Linked DNA regions of Homo sapiens: region 2 is linked to region 1. The links come from fine-mapping of genetic effects on gene expression. Tissue or cell type: whole blood. Region 1 holds a variant in brackets; the other region holds the start of a gene. All regions are shown on one strand. Distances are between the middles of the regions.

Evidence for each region. PIP is the estimated chance that this variant, and not a neighbour inherited with it, causes the effect.
Region 2: it holds the start of CEP131, and the variant in region 1 is fine-mapped to the expression of CEP131 in whole blood (TOPMed, PIP above 0.99). The same link has a PIP of 0.9 or more in aorta, blood mononuclear cells, esophagus muscle, lung, sigmoid colon and subcutaneous fat.

What each region holds. Positions count from the first base shown.
Region 1 is chr17:81,193,011-81,201,010 of GRCh38, forward strand. CEP131 (centrosomal protein 131) reads right to left here. Exons shown (of 26, transcript NM_014984.4): 8 at 7,319-7,436; 9 at 6,709-6,825; 10 at 6,371-6,539; 11 at 5,867-5,961; 12 at 5,105-5,287; 13 at 4,702-4,878; 14 at 3,920-4,045; 15 at 3,691-3,816; 16 at 2,825-2,941; 17 at 1,860-1,962; 18 at 916-1,117. Among named protein-coding and RNA genes, the nearest start is that of CEP131, 26 kb to the right of the region's middle. RefSeq lists an enhancer at 1-626. The variant G/T (reference allele first, on the strand shown) is at 4,182.
Region 2 is chr17:81,219,584-81,227,583 of GRCh38, forward strand. It overlaps CEP131 (centrosomal protein 131), which reads right to left and starts at 3,382. Exons shown (of 26, transcript NM_014984.4): 1 at 3,186-3,382; 2 at 297-490. The coding sequence starts at 473. RefSeq lists enhancers at 1,743-2,413, 2,414-3,083, 3,084-3,753 and silencers at 3,115-3,444, 3,605-3,974.

The DNA of each region.
Region 1 (8,000 bases):
GGGGCAGGCAAGGCCACGAGGAACTTGCCCATCAGCCAAGCGCAGCAATTCCCTGAGCTCCAGGCCCTCGTGGCACTTTGGGAAGTGGCTGTGGAGCCGCGTCCAGGCCCCCTTTTCCCTCAGCCCGTGTGCCGGCCTCACCCTGTTCAGCATTGCCCCACGGGCATGGAGGGCGGGAGGCAGGTGCCTCGTGGGGCCTTATCCACCTCCCCTGCCTCCGGCCTGAGGGTGCCAGGTGCCTGGCTCCGTGACCTGAGCAAGCTCGCGCCAGGGCCTCGTCCTGACCCCACCTTCGAGGAGAGACTGGGGGACCAGCCAAGCTGCATCTGGGGAGGACCAGCCACGACAGGCAACAGGGTGGATAGGAGAGGGTGGCTTCCAGGCTGTCCTGGTGGCGCAGACAGTGCAGGAGGGGCTGCCACTGCCCCCTGTGGCCCGCAGATCCTGACCACCACTGGGCACGTCCCCAGCCCCCAGGGCTCAGGACGCAAGAGCAGCAGTCACCCCTCAGACCCCAGGCCAAGGGAGTGAATGAGAGAGACCGTCCCTGGGCCCCAAGGTCAGAGCTGGAGGGGCCTCGAGGCCGCCTATCCACGGGTTGCTGCTCTGGGGCCAGTTGTGAAAGAGTGGATGTCTGGTGGGGGTTCCCAGCCCTGACCCTGGGAAAACACCCGTGCACCCATGCAGAACCTGCAGACCTCGGCGGGCATGAACTGCAGACACAAGCCCGAGGACACTGGCCCGGCTGAGGCTGGGCCCCCAAGGGCCACTCCAGGGCCAAGGGCCCTGCGTCCTCCCTGCATGCTGCACTAAGACCCTCGCCCACCTCTACATGGGAACTCCACTCCAGCCTTCGAGGATTCCGACTCCCCGCCCTGAGGGTCCTGGCCCCACCGGCCTGGGGCCACCACCCACCGCTGCCGAGCACGTTCGCGCTCCTGCTGGCCCAGCGCCTCCTTCTCCCGCTCCAGCTGCTCCCGCAGCTCCTCGGCCTGGCGCAGGCAGCGCTGCGAGGCCCGCTCATCCGACTGCAGCAGCTCCGCCTCGTGCAGGCTCTTGAGCCTCCGCACTTCCTGCTTGTGCCTTGCAATCAGCTTCTGGATCTCGGGCTCCAGACCTGGGGGCGGGGCACCAGCTAGGGCCACGTCCAGCTAGGGTGGGCCCGGGAAGTCCAACCCTGGCACAAGACCAGCCTGTCTCAGGCCCAGAGGGGACCCCGCCCACCCAGGGCCTCCTTGGATCCAACCCGAAGCACAGCTGAGTCTTGACGCCCACGAGGTGGGGAAGAGACCCCCACAGGGCCACGGCGCCTCTCCCAGCCTGTGGGGCTCAGGGCTCCTGACACTCCTGGTGCTACCACTGACGGCTCCCAGGCACCCTGGCAGGTGTCCAGAGCGAGAGGACCAGGCCTCGGGGAGCCCTGCACATCACCCAAGGGTCCGAGGCCCCTTCAGACCACAACACCCACCAGCCTCCTGCCCCATCCGCCTGCCTGCCCCTGCCTCCTCCTGTGGCTCACTCTGCTTCCCGTGGCAGGGCCCACGTGCCACAGTCGTCCACAAACTCCCAATCTCCCCTAGCCCAACCCTGAGGAAGTGAGGCACTGAGCCCCCTCGTTTCAGGCAACTGCCTAGATGCTGGGGGCTGGGCCAGGCTCCTGTGTGGAGCCCACCTGCCCCCCGGGTCACGGCAGAAGCCGCAGCGGAGGCCGTGACGGGGGTGGTTGGGGCATGAGTGTTCACCTCTGCCCAGGAAGGTCTCGGACTACATGAATGCCTGAAGTTATGGCTCTCTCAAAAGAAGCCCTGGCCGCAGCACCCACCCCACACCTGGCCGGCTCATGGGAGGGGAGGGCCCACCTCGGACAGTGACCTCCTTGATCTTCTTGGTTTTCTCACTGATCCACTTCTCCCGGCGGGCTTTCTCGGTGGCGCTCATTAATTCTTTGAGTTTTTTAATCTCCTACGAGCAGAACAGGGCAGGAGGAAACGACACGAAGGACACCCCCGTCCCTTTGCCACCCTGTGGGCACAGTCAGGGCCGGGCTTCCAGGTCCACCAGCACAAGGCCGGCACTCATGGTTGGGTGTGCTGCCCCGAGACAGAGCCACTGCTGCCCTCCCCAGCGCCCGGGGCCAGGCTGGAGGCCCAGGCCCACCCTGCCACACACCTTGGTGGCCTGAGACATGGGAGGGCAGCCATCAGCCTGCAGAGGCCTTGCCCCAGAGAGGGGTGCTGCTGCCTGTCGGGACGGCCCCAGAGCCTGCATTCTTCCATGGGACTGGCAGTCCTCAACCCCGGCTGTCAGCCACAGTCACGTGCAGGGATTTTAAAATGCCAGTGCCAAGCCCCACTCCAGAACCTGGGCTCGGGACCATCACTGCCCAAGCTGGTGGGAAGCATAGCCAGGGAGGCTGAGGCCCCCAGGGAGCTCACACAGCGGGAAGGGGCGGGGAGTCAATGCTCCACCGACACCTGGTCAGTAGAGAGAGCAGGTCCCATGGCCCAAGGACCTGGCAGTGGGGCAGACCAGGCAGAGGCTCCTGGGTCCACGGCTACCGTGCTGTGGCCGGGCAGGGACTGTGCGTCCACATCTGTGACAGCAGGCCCACGGCCCCGCCCCAGAGCCTGGCAGCTAGAGAGGCAGGAGTGGACCAGCTCGGTGCCACGGTGCTCCCCCAGACAGCCCCACCCACCGCTGTGGCCCTGACACACCGAGACAGGAATGAGGACTCCAAGTCCGGTCCTGTTCTGGGGGCTGTGCCAGCTGAGCCTGGCCTGTGAGCCGGGCTTGGGACGCCGTGCAGTAGGGAGCAAAGCCTCACCAGCTCGTGCTGCGCCTGTGCCTGGGCCACACGCTCGGTGCATCTCTGGTCCTCCTGCTTCAGCTCGGCCACCACAGCCTCGCACTTTTCACTCAGGACCTTCTTGTCCTCAATCAGCTGTGTTGGGGACCGGAGGTGAGGTGCTACACCAAGGCCCCAGCCCAGCAGGACCCCTGATGGAGGAGACCCTCCCAGCCTCCGAGGGAGGCTAACAGCAGCCCTCCCCTGGGGCTGCCCCTCCTAGGTTTGTGGATGGACCCTGGGGCCAGTGGGGGGGCACGTGTGCAAACACGGGCCCAGGCCTGCATCCGCCGTCCTGTCCTCAGCTGGGGGACCCGGCGAATGTCAGAGAAGCCCCAGCCCACCCCCTGCAGTGATGTCAGGGTCTTCCTGGGATGAGGGTAGCTCTGCCGAGGCCATCACCCAGCCCTGGAGGAGGCTCACTGTCTGCCAAAGGGTGTCAGGACCACACCAGCCTCACTGCCGGCCCCAGGCCAGACCCCAGGTCAGGACACACCTGTGACAACTATCAAGCAGCCCTGGAGGCCCCTATTCTCACACACCCCAGACCAACTCTAGGTCTCTTCTCTTCAGAACAGGAGCCAACCGGGGCTGCGACTGAGCTGAGGGGCCGGCAGGACACCCCACTACACTCACACGGGGCGGCTCTGGATAAAGACAGGAGTGCCCTCTCCAGGGCATGCATGGCTGGGAATGGCATGGGAAAGGCTTGGAATGCGTCCAGCGGACACCCGTGTGACACCCAACAGAGGAAGAAGCTCCCTGGCAGTGGGAAGCCCCTGGCTCTGGAAGTCTCCATGAGCCACGCGCTGGGTCCGGGCCTCTGCGCTCCCCGGGCCGCTCACCTGGTCAATGAAGGCCAAGTGCCGCTGGATGGTGGCCTCGTAGTGCTCCCTCTGCCGCTGCAGCTGCCGGCTCAGCGCCTTCTCTGTCTCCTTGACCCGCCGGGCCGTGAGGTCTCGCTGCTGCGCCTGCAGGGTGTGGGCAGAGGAGGGAAGCGCTAGGACCGGTGGGCCTGGCCTCAGCAGGTAGGAGGCTAGCAGGGCCCGGGATTAGCAGTGCCAGCAGCGTTACCAGCGCTCTCTGCAGCAGCAGCATGGCCTGCTTCTTCTCCTCCACCTCCAGCTTCAGCCGCATCACAGACGTGCTCACCTCGGACCCCAGCTCCAGGGGCCCCGGCCCCGCCTCCGGCACCCACCCCTGCAGACACAGCCGAGCGTCAGGCGGAAGCGGCAGAGGACGGGGGGCAGCCAAGGACCTGACACGATGCCCCTGCGGCCCTGCCCTCTGGGGACAGAGGGGCTGCTGCACACGGGAGCCCGTGGGAAGCCGGAGG[G/T]CAGGTGGCAGGCGGCCCAGCAGAGGTCGTTTTCATTGCTCAGTACAGGAAATGGGGGCCGTGGCCTCAGGAATAAAAAACAAACCATTTAAAAAGTTCTATGCTGCCCAGCTTCCTGCCCTGTGACAATAAAGTTCACGTCACTGCTCCATTTAGCCTGGCCGCTAGTGTTCACCCAGGACAAACCAACCCAGAGGACAGCAGGGCTCCAGAGGGCTGAACTATCCACACATATGGGCTCGTGGAGGCAGCTCGGGGCAGCGGGTAGGTGGGGGCAGTATGGGGAATGCGGGCCCTGCCACCTCCACCCTGAGAGACCCGTGGGGGGTGCTGCATAACTAGGTGGGTACATGGTGAGGGACCACCTCCTGCTGGGGGCCGGGTGGGGGCTGGCGAGAGACCTCCTCCCCCTGGGGGCCAGGTGCGGGCTGGTGAGGGGCCTCCTCCCCCGAGGGCCAGGTGCAGGCTCGTGAGGGGCCTCCTCCCACTGGGGGCCGGGTGCGGGCTGGTGAGGGGCCACCTCCTGCTGGGAGTCCAGCTGGTCCTGCCCAGACTTCTCCATCTCGTCCAAGAAGCTCATGATGCTTTGTAGCTTGGCCTCCGATAGCAGCGTCCCATCCTCAGGAGGTTCGGGGAACGCACTGAGTTTTCCAAATTTCTCCAAGTTGTCAGCTGTCAGAGAGCTGGCGTCATCCTCCTGTGGGACAGGAGCCCAGCATCGGGGGCTGTCAGGGCAGCCTGAGGACTTGGGTTCCCCAAAGGCAGAGGTGGCAGCTGAGGCTGGGCTCTGGGAGGGAGGGTTGTGACTAAAGCCAGGAGGAGCCTGTGGCATCCCCATTTTCCCAACCCCCACAGCCACCGCATGCTCTGTGTGAATGGCGTGGGTGGACAGACTGTGCAGGGCGGGCGCACACCGTGGTCACCTCGCTGGCCCAGGCGTATCTGCCCCTGTGATGGGTCCTGGGGCGGGGCAGCACGTCCGGCTCCTTCTCCAGCAGCTGCAGTGTGTGCAGCAGCTCCTCCAGTGGCCCCCTGGACTTGGCGCTCCCCCTGCTCGGGGCCATCATCTCCAGGTTGTCCCCAGCTGCATCCTGGGCAAGAACGTCCTGCAAAAGAGCAGGGAGACAGATGCAGCAAGGCTGCTGGTAGCTGAGAGCAGCCCCCACATAGGAGGCCAACCGCAGAGCCCCAAAGGCGCCGCGGGAGCTCCCCAGTCCCGACATTCAGCCCCAGGAAGGTGAGGCCAGGGCTCAGACCTTCCCACCCGGTCTCTGCAGCTGCTCAAACCCAGAGCAGCTCCAGCCACCAGGGGACTCCTCCCAGTGCCCCACTCCAGGAAAACAGGAGTGCAGCCACCTGGCCCCACCATTGAGCAGCCTGGGAGCCTTGGCTGTCAGGTCACCCCTCAGAGCCGGAAGCTCCTCTTTTGTGGATGAGGATGCAAGGCCCCCCACCCCAGGACATCTGCAAAAACCCAACTGGATCCACCCCAGCAAAGGCTCCCCAAGAGGCAGCCAGCACCATGCATCAGAGCAAGAAGACACCTCCTGGGTGGCCTCTCTGAGCTTAAGTGGCCCCTAGAGCAGAGGAGGGGCTGGGAGAAGCTCAGCTCAGGACACCCCTGGCACAGACATGGCCCTTAAAGCCAAAAACCATGATGGAGTGAAGGACAGCTGTGCTCAGACCTGCGTCCTGTCCTCTGGAGGCTGCTGTGGTTCTGGGGATGAGTCGGAGGTGGGCAGGCAGCGGTCTCCGGGGCCTGCAGCAGGGAGGCCACCACCTGCACAGCAGAACACAGCACCATTCCACAGGGAGCATCCCGGGGCGGGCAGCAACTCTGGAGGCACCCCCGGGAAGGAGCCAGGCATGGGGGAGGCGGAGGCGACCCCAGAAGCAGAGGAGCCGCTGGGGAGCCACGGCCTTCTGGGTGTGGAGCTGTGGAGGATGAGTGCCACCCCTCCCTTCCGGGCCTTCTACTCTGTAGGGATCCCTACGTCCAGGACCATTTGATTGTCAAGGTCTCGGCACCCTCGTCAGGTCAGCTGGGGGCCAAGGCCCCTAACTCCGAGGACTGGGGCCGCCAACATGGGCAGCAGCACAGGAGGCCGAGAGGAGGTCCACAAGGGCTGCACTTCCTTCCTGGCTGCAGTCCACCCCCCAGAGCAGGGCGGGCGTGGAGCCACTCTCACCAGTATTGTTGGCCTTGAGGGCCTGGTGGGCAGTGCCGCCTGGTGTGGGGGACAGCTCCTGAGCAGGCTGCCGCATTCCTGGCACTCTGGTCTCCCTGGGATTCTCAGGTGGCCCACGCTCGGCAGTGCTCGCCTTCTGGGCTCTCAGGGCTCGTTTCTGTTGCAGCTCCTGCAGTGGGAGCATCGCTGAGCACTGTCCCTGGGAGAGGACGACCCCAGGCTCCACAGCCAAGCTGCCCTGAGGCTAAGTGTCCCGGGGCCCAGGGAGCCCCAGCAGCAGCCCCGCACGGTCAGGCCTGGGCCACGGTGCTGCTCAGTGGTCCCTGCGCGGTCAGCACCTGAATGGCTGCTCGCCTGGCTTGGCGTGCCTTCTCCTCCCGGGCCTTCCTCCTGGCTGCCTCTTTCTGCTGGTGCAGGTCCAAGAGGGTCCCCTCGCCTGACCGCTGCCGCTGCTCCTGCCAAAGAAGCCGGTGCCATGTGGCGTTTACATCTGGAAGACGGAATCCAGACCCAGACCAGAGGTTTCCCCACAACGCCCTGGAGTCCCCTAGAGTTCGTGGAATCTCAGGGCCAGCAGGGAAAGTGAAACCCCACCAGGACCTTGAACCTGCCATTTCTCTGCTCTACAGAGGATGAGCCCTACGTCGCAGGTGGCCAACAGTTCTGGCGTGGGGGAGACAGCTCTGCCCCCACAGAACGTCCTCCTGAGACTCTCCAGCCTGGGATGGACCCAGCAGGCGTTTCCTGACACCCAGGCCCTGAGGACCGCCAGTGAGGACCACCCTGACTGTCCGCGGGGACCCAGGGTCAAGAAGGATGCTGCACCCAGAGACGGGGCCCACGAGCAATCCTAGGCTTTGATTCCACCTGTCCCAGAAACTCAAACCCCTGGGATTCTGGGCCAGACCCCCCGGGGGAGCATGGAGTGACTGAGACGCCCACACTGACCTCCCGCTTGGCCTGAAGCAAGTGCTCCAGGCGGGCAGCTCCTGCTCCGCGCCGCTGCACCTGGTGCCGGTACCAGCGCTGGATGGTGACAGTGGCCTGGTTCACCTGGTGGATAAACCTGCCCGGAGAGCAGGACTCAGGGCCAAGACAGGACCAGCGCCCCGGCAGGACCCAGCTGGCTGCTGGTGGAAGGTCGAGCCGGGGAAGAGAGAAGCCGGCGGCTGCACTCAAGTAGCCCTTTTCACAAGGCAGGACCAGCCCACCTGGACCATTTTCACATGGCAGGACCAGCCGCCTGGACCAGCTCCACTAAAACCCAAAACCTTCTTCCTGGGAAGGTGCCCAGGGGAGAGGAAACGCCTACCCACGCAGGCCTGTGTGGCCTTATTTACAATTGCCAGGAAGTGGGAAGAGTTCAAATGCCCATGACCTGGCTACAGCGTGAATACTGGATGGCGGGACCCTACCCACAGGCAACAGGCCCGGGACTCAGGCCAGTGCAGACCACAGGCCGTGGCTCCACAGAGAGGGTGGTCGGAACAGGCAGGGCTATGAGGGAACAGACTGGTGGCTGCTGGCATCTGGGCGGGGAAGGAGCTCGAGGGAAGCCTGGTGGTGCTGGGCCGTTTCCTTATCTTGGTCTGCTGTGTCCACAGACAGCACTATACACCCTGGTGGAATC
Region 2 (8,000 bases), 27 kb after region 1:
CACCGAGCCCAGCCAACCCCATTTCCTGAGGATTCAAACAAATCCAAAGGGCGGTGGCACAGGAGGCCTGGGGCTGTTGCTGAAAGAATCCAAGCTCTGGCTTGACTTTCTAGTGATTCAGCACCCACGCCTGTAAGACTCAAGTCCTACCTGCCTCCTGGAACAGCCACGAGGATCCAGCATGTCCAGATGTGAGGCACTTGTTCACCTGTGGAGCTGGACCCAGGGGTCAGATGCCAACTGAACAACAGCCCTCCAGGAGGCAGGGGCCCGGACTCCTAGGCCACAGTACTCACCAGCACCTTCCTCTTCTGCTCGCTGCCTGTGACCACGGAGACAGAGCGGACGATGGGCTTGGTGGTGGCGGCACTGCCAGGACGCCGGGACACAGGCGGAGGGAGACCTGTCAGACTCAGGTCCACACCTGCTGGGCTGCGCTCCGGGACGCTGCCGATGGCCCGGGTGCCTTTCATGGTGGACAAGGCAGGTCCTGAGCGGGGAAGCAAGAGCTGCAATGAGATGCCGTGGGGGAACTACAGTCCCCTGCACCCACCATCTCCAGCCCAGCCTCAGCTGGGTCCACTGGCCACCAAACTTCCTGGGAAGGCCTGTCACAACCTATGCACCCCTCTGGCTGGTGGCAGGCTCCTCGACAGGAACATGAGGGAGCTGTTCTGAGCCCAATGTCAGTGTATGCCAGGGCAGGAGGGCCCTGGATGATGGACAGGTGGGTGGCGAGGGCAAGGCCCGTGGGTGGGAATAAGCCAGCAGCACCCCAGAGGGAGCCTGGGCCACAGGCCATTGTCGATGTGAGCCAGGTTCTGCCATCTACCCCACACCGTGATTCTGAGAAAGTCACTGCCCCGAGCCCCACTGTTTTCTTCTGTAAAAGGGACATTTGATTTATTTTTTATTTTATTATGTTTTTGAAACAGAGTCTCGTTCTTGTCACCCAGGCTGGAGTGCAGTGGCGCGATCTCGGCTCATTGCCACCTCTGCCTCCCGGGTTCAAGCGATTCTCCTGCCTCAGCCTCCTGAGTAGCTGGGATTACAGGTGCCCGCCACCACGCCTGGCTAATTTTTGTATTTTTAGTAGAAGTAGAAACGGGGTTTTGCCATGTTGGCCAGGCTGGTCTCGAACTCCTGACCTCAGGTGATTCGCCTGCCTCGGCCTCCCAAAGTGCTGGGATTACAGGCATGAGCCACCGTACCCGGCCCCTAAGTAAAAATACACATTTTAAAAAGGGGTTGCGTGTTGGCCGGGCACAGTGGCTCACTCCTGTAATCCCAGCACTTTGGGAGACCAAGGCAGGCAGATTGCCTGAGCTCAGGAGTTCAAGACCAGCCTAAGCAACACAGTGAAACCCCACCTCTACTAAAAACTTCAAAAAATTAGCCGGGCGTGGTGGCGAGCGCCTGTAATCCCAACTACTTGGGAGGCTGAAGCAGGGGAATTACTTGAACCTGGTAGGCGGAGTTTACAGTGAGCCAAGATCGTGACACTGCACTCCAGCCTGGGCAACATAGCGAGACTCCATCTCAAAAAAAAAAAAAAAAAAAAAACGCGGGAGTGGTTTTGTGAGGTCCAGACAAGATGCTGGTCTCAAGGCCTCAAGGCTGCACCGGGCAAACACTCCCTGGGTAATGTGTTATTCCAGCAGGGGACGGGGGTTCTGACGATCGATCGAGGGGATTAGCTTGGGGATGCTGGCTTCCTTACTTTGGAACTTCTCAGAGCAAACCCTGCCGGCCCCCAGCCCGTCCCCACATGGCACCTCTTTCTGAACGAGTCTTTCTGATCTTTCTGAACGGGTCTCAGCTCGTGCATGTGCCCCTGCCAAAAACCCTGCAACAGCTTCCTAGGCACAGAGAATAAAGTCTACACATCCAACTCCTGCAAGATCTGGCCCTGTACTCTCTGTGACCTCGCCAGCTCCCCTGCTGTGCCCCTTTGTTGTGGCTTTAGCCAACACAGCCTCCCTGGTTCTCCTCAAACTCAGCCAGCTTGGCCCCGGCCAGTCCCCTGCCTCTAGGTCTCAGGACACTCCCTCCCTGCACTCAGAGGCCTTCCTTGAGCACCCATCACTCTTCACTCCCCATCCGGCTCGGACTCCCTTCCTGTGGCCGCACACAGTTGGTTTATGAATTGTGTGGCTCCTGAGCAACCCCAGCACCTGCAGGGAAAGGCACTCAGCTGAACCCGTAGATGAACGGGAGAAGCTGGCGCCAGGGACCAACCTCGAGAATTACCTCCCTGCCACGGTGGCCTCCAGTAGGCCAGCAGGCACCCAGCCTATCGCCCAAGGTCACCCTGGGCTTCCTTCAGCCCGGCACCCCACAGCAGGTCCCCCAAGGTCCCTTCCACGGAGCGATGGATACCCCTACTCCCTAGAGGCTGACCCTGCCACTGACCAGGTCCCAGTCCTCAGTTATGCACTTCCGGCTGTGCGGAAGAAACTTAACACCCTCCTCCTGCAGGGCACTGTCCACCCCTGGCTGGACCCATGCAAGCCCTTGGAGCCCAGGACTCTGCTCTCCCAGCCACACTTGCAAGCGGCTCTGGGATGGCGAACGGGGCCTCTCCATGGAAACCTCCAAGCCAGAAGAAGGGAGGCCTGGGAGGCCACTACATCTTGGATAAAACTGTGTCCCTCCCAGGACCTGAAGGGGCGGGGACTGATGACCAGCGCCAGGACCTGGTTCCCAGGGTGGGCTGACCCTGACCCTGACCCTGACCCTGGACAGAGAGGCCAGAGCCCACGCGCAGAGCAGAGCCCTCCACTTGTCCTCAGGGCAGCTCCCATCTCCCCATTTTCCCCAGGGCTTAAGGCAGCCGGGCCAGAGATGCCGGGACTGGACTCCATGTTGTCCTGGGGACCGGAGGGGAGTGGAGGGAGGTGGAGAGGGTGGAGGGGATGGAGGTGGGGACCCACACCCTCAGGCACGAGCCTGTCTTCACCTGCGCGGGCCCCGGACCTCCCTCACCTGTGCGCACCCTGGATCCCCCTCACTTCCCCCGGATCCCGCCTTCAATTGCGCGGGCACCAGATCCCCCCACTCACCTGTGCGTGCCCCGGATCCCCATCACTTCATCACTGGACCAGGGCCTCCCACCTGCGCGGGCTCCGGACCCCTCCAACCTCCGTGCGCCCTGCAACCCCCTCCCTTGCCCGGGCCCCCCTCACCTGCGCGGGCCGGGGGCGCAGCCGCGAAGCCTGCCTGGCGCGCGGGGCCTGCAGATTCGGCCGGCGGGGAGGGGATGCGGAACCAGTCGCGCCCAAACCTCGGGTCGGCGACCTGGCGCCCCGCCACCCCCAACACTGCCCCGAGGCCCGGTGACAATGAAGCGGCCGGACGGCCGGGGTGAGCAGCGGCGGCAGCTAGCAACCAGCCTGGCACCACCTCCCCAGCCCGTCACGCCGGCCCGCCTTTCCTGCGCGCGCCGACTCCGGATTGGCCCTTCACGCTCCCGCTCAGGCCGTCCCGGGAGCTCATTGGGCCGCTCGGCTGTCCTTCGGGAAGTTCAAGCGTGGGAGGAGCGGCGGATGGCTGAGGGACGCGACTACAGAGAGCGGCCGATTGGACGCGGCTGGAAAGGGGCGGGTCATATAGGGGGCGGGGGACCGAGGGCGGCGGGAGGAGCTGGCCGGGCAGGGGCGGGGCCCCAGCGGTTGTGGGCGGGGCGTGAGGTGGGGGTGTGATGGGCGAGTAGGGCGAGGCAGATGTGGGCGGGGCAAGGCAGGTGTGGGCGGGGCACGCAGGGCCTGGGGAGGAGACACCAGGGAGGGCGCGAGGAGCACGCGGCCTCGGCTCGGCTCCCCGACACCCCCAGGCCGCCGCACTCCCGCGGCCCGGGGCTCCCCCAGTGTCCTAGGCCGCTCTGTCCCCACCCACGTGCGCGACTCCCCTCGTTACTCAGTACGACTGCGAGGGCGTGTGGGCGCCTTGCTAACCTCCCTGACCTCCTTCCCTTCGCGCTGCTTTGTTGTTTTTTTTCCTTCTCCAAAGTTTTAACGCTGCGCCCCGTGCGTAGCCGCTCTGTGACTCCCCCTCTCTCCGGGAGCCCTGGGGATTCCGCCCAGGTCCTCTCCAGGGAAGCCATCCTTCCCCTAAAAGTCACAGCACACTGGTCTCCCCTGCCCCCGCTTTTTAAAAAGTCCAGTGCTCTGTAAAATAAAAAGTTTGGTTTCAGTAAAATCCACATTTTTTGGTGTGCAGTGGAGTTGTGTAACTTTAGTTACAGAACATTCTCCCTCCGGATCCCGTACCTGCTGACTGCTGGTGGCGGCTGCTCAGTTCTCTCTGTTCTCCATCCCTAGAGGCAGCCTTTTCCAGAATGTCACACAAAAGGGATGTCGCGCAGCGCGCCTGTGGGTCTGGCTTCTACCACTTCGCATTTTGAGATTCATGCTGGTTCCTCTTTATTGCTGAGTGGTATCCTGTAACCGGTGTGAACCACCGGTTCAGATGGTTTTATTTATTGATGGTTTTATTCATCAAATGAAGGACGCAGAGATTGTTCCTGGTGCTTGGCAATTATGAATGACGCTGCCATAAACATTCACTCATCGGCTTCTGTGTGGACACAACTTTTCATTTCTCTTGTGTAAATACCCAGGAGTGGGGTTGCTGGATCAAATGATTGTTTATAAGAAACTGCCGGCCGGGCGCAGTGGGTCCCACCTGTAATTCCAGAACTTTGGGACACTGAGGTGGGCGGATCACCTGAGGTCAGGAGTTCGAGATCACCCTGGCCAACATGGCAAAACCCCGTCTCTAGTAAAAATACAAAAAAATTACCCGTGCCTGGTGGCGTCTGCCTATAATCCCAGCTACTCAGGAGGCTGAGTCAGGAGAATCGCTTGACCCCAGGAGGCAGAGATTGCGGTGAGCGGAGATCACCACTGCACTCCAGCCTGAGCGACAGAGCAAGACTCCATCTCAAAAAAAAGAAAAAGAAAAAAAAAAGGAAACCGCCAAGCTATTTTCTTTTTCTTTTTTTTCCTTTTTTTTCCGAGATGGAGTCTCCCTCTGTCGCCCAGGCTGGAGTGCAATGGCATGATCTTGGCTCACTGCAAACTCCACTTCCTGGGCTCAAGCAATTCTCCTGCCTCAGCCTCCCGAGTAGCTGGTATTACAGGCACATGTCACCATGCCAGGCTAATTTTTGTATTTTTAGTAGAGACAGGGTTTTGTCATATTGGCCAGGCTGGTCTTGAACTGCTGACTTCAGGTGATCCACCCACCTCGGTCTCCCAAAGTGCTGGGATTACAGGCGTGGGCCACCACATCGGCCTACTAAGCTATTTTCCAAAGAAGTTGTACAGCTCTACGCTCCCACCAGTGCCACAGGTGTTGCAGTTGCTCCCCATCCTCCTCAGCTCTTGGTATTGTCAGGGATTGGTTTTATTTGTTTACTTATTTATTTATTTATTTATTATTATTTTTTTGAAACAGAGTCTCGCATTTTTGCCCAGGCTGGAGCATAGTGGCGCGATCTCAGCTCACTGCAAGCTCCGCCTCCCGGGTTCACGCCATTCTTCTGCCTCAGCCTCCCGAGTAGCTGGGACTACAGGTGCCCGCCACCACGCCTGGCTAATTTTTTTGTATTTTCAGTAGAGACGGGGTTTCACCGTGTTAGCCAGGATGGTCTCGATCTCCTGACCTCGTGATCCGCCCGCCTTGGCCTCCCAAAGTGCTGGGATTACAGGCGTGAGCCACCGCGCCCGGCCTACCACATTGTCTTGATTAGTGTTTTTGTTGTTGTTGTTGTTGCAGAGATGGGGTCTCACATGTTGCCCAGGCTAGTCTCAAATTCCTAGGCTCAAGCAATTCTCCCACCTTCACCTCCCAAAGTGCTGGGATTACAGGCATGAGCCACTGCACCTGGCCTAGAGTCAATCCTGAAATCAGGTTTTGAGTCCTTTGTTCTTCTTTCTCCAAATTACCTAGGCTATCCAAATTCTTTTGACTTTTCCTATAAATTTGAGTTTCAGCTTGTCACTATCTTAAAAAATATCCAGCTGTGATTTTGATGGGGATTACATTAAATCTGTAGACCTGTAACCTGGAAGAATTGACACCAGAATTTATGAACATGGTATATCTCTCCACTTATTTAGATCTTCATTGATTTCTTTCATCAGTACTTTGAAGTTTTCAGCATACACATCCTACATATATCTTTCTAATTTATACCTAATCATTTCATTTTTGGAGTGCCATTACAGATGGTAGTTTTTTATGGTTTAATTTCCAATTGTTTATTGCTATTACAAAAGTGTAACTGATGTTAGTATATTTACCCTGGAGCCTGTGTCTTTGCTAAACTCACTTCTTAGTCTTAGGAAGTTTTTGGTAGATTTCACGGGATTTTCTACAATCCTGTTTTCTGTGAATAGTATGTTTTATTTCTTCCTTTCTAATGTGTCTGGCTTTCTAGTTTTTTCTTGCTTTATCGAACTGGCCAGGGCTTCAGTGTAATGCTGAACAGAAATGGTTAGCATGCACACCATGGCCTTCTTTCCAATCATAGGGGAAAAGCATTCAGTCCTTCAGCATTAAGTATGATGTCAGCTGAGGGGTTTTTGCAGAAACCCCTTGCCACCCAAAAGATCTCTTACATTTCTAATTTGTCAAATTTGGGAGGGTTTTTGGGTCATGAGTGAATGTTGAATTTGTTTCTTGTTTTTTCTGCATAAAATGATCATGTGATTTTTCTTTACTGTTAATATGATGGATTGAATTACACTGATTTTCATAGGTTGAAACAGCCTTGCATTCCTGGGATATATTCCACTTATAGTGATGTATTACACTTTTTATATATTACTGGATTCATTTTGTTGTTTTCTTGAGGAATTTTGCATCTATATTCCAGAAGGATATTGATCTCTAGTTTTCTAGACCAAGTGTACATGGAACATCCACCAAGATAAACTATATTCTTGGCCATAAAACAAACTTTAACAAAAGTTTGAAATCCTTAACAAAAGTGTGAGGCCAGGCACAGCAGCTCATGCCTGTCATCCTAATACTTTGGGAGATTGAGGTGGGAGAATTGCATGAGGCCAGGAGTTGGAGACCAGCGTGGGCAACATAGCAAGAGCTCCATCTCTACCAAAGAAAAAAAAGGCCATGTGTGGTGACTGAGGCATGAGGATTGCTTAGGACTGCTTGAACTCAGGAGGTTGAGACTGCAGTGAGCTGTGATTGCACCACTGCACTAGGTGACAGAGCTAGAGTGCAGTGGCACAATCATGGCTCACTGCAGCCTTGACCTCTGGAGTTCAAGCAATCCTCCCGCCTCAGCCACCTGGGTAGCTGCGACCATGCCTGGCTAATTTAAATTTTTTTTTTTTTTTTTTTTGTAGAAACGGGGTCTTGCTATGTTGCCTAGGCTTGAAATCTTTAAACAATATAACAGAAATCATATAAAATATGTTCTCTGACTATATCAGAATTAAATCATAACACAATATGCTTTAAAATAACCCATTGGACAAAACGGAAGTCTCAAGATAAATTTGAAAATATTTTGAGCTGAATAACAATTTAAATGTACCAAAATTCATAGGATGCAGCCAAAGCAGTGTTCACAGGAATGTTTATAGCATTACAAGGCTCACATTAGAAAATAAAGGACATGATAAATAATCTAAGCTTCCACCTTAAGAAACTGAAAAAGGCTGGGCGCTGTGGCTCATGTTTGTAATCCCAGTGCTTTGGGAGGCCGAGGAGGGTGGATCACAAGGTCAGGAGATCGAGACCATCCTGGCTAACATGGTGAAACCCAATCTCTACCAAAATACAAAACATTAGCCGGGCATGGTGGCATGAGCCTGTAATCAATCCCAGCTACTCGGGAGGCTGAGGCAGGGGAATCGCTTGAACCCGGGAGGCAGAGGTTGCACTGAGCCCAGATTGCGCCACTGCACTCCAGCCTGGGTGACAGAGTGAGACTCTGTCTCAAAAAAAAAAAAAAAAAAAAAAAAAGAAAC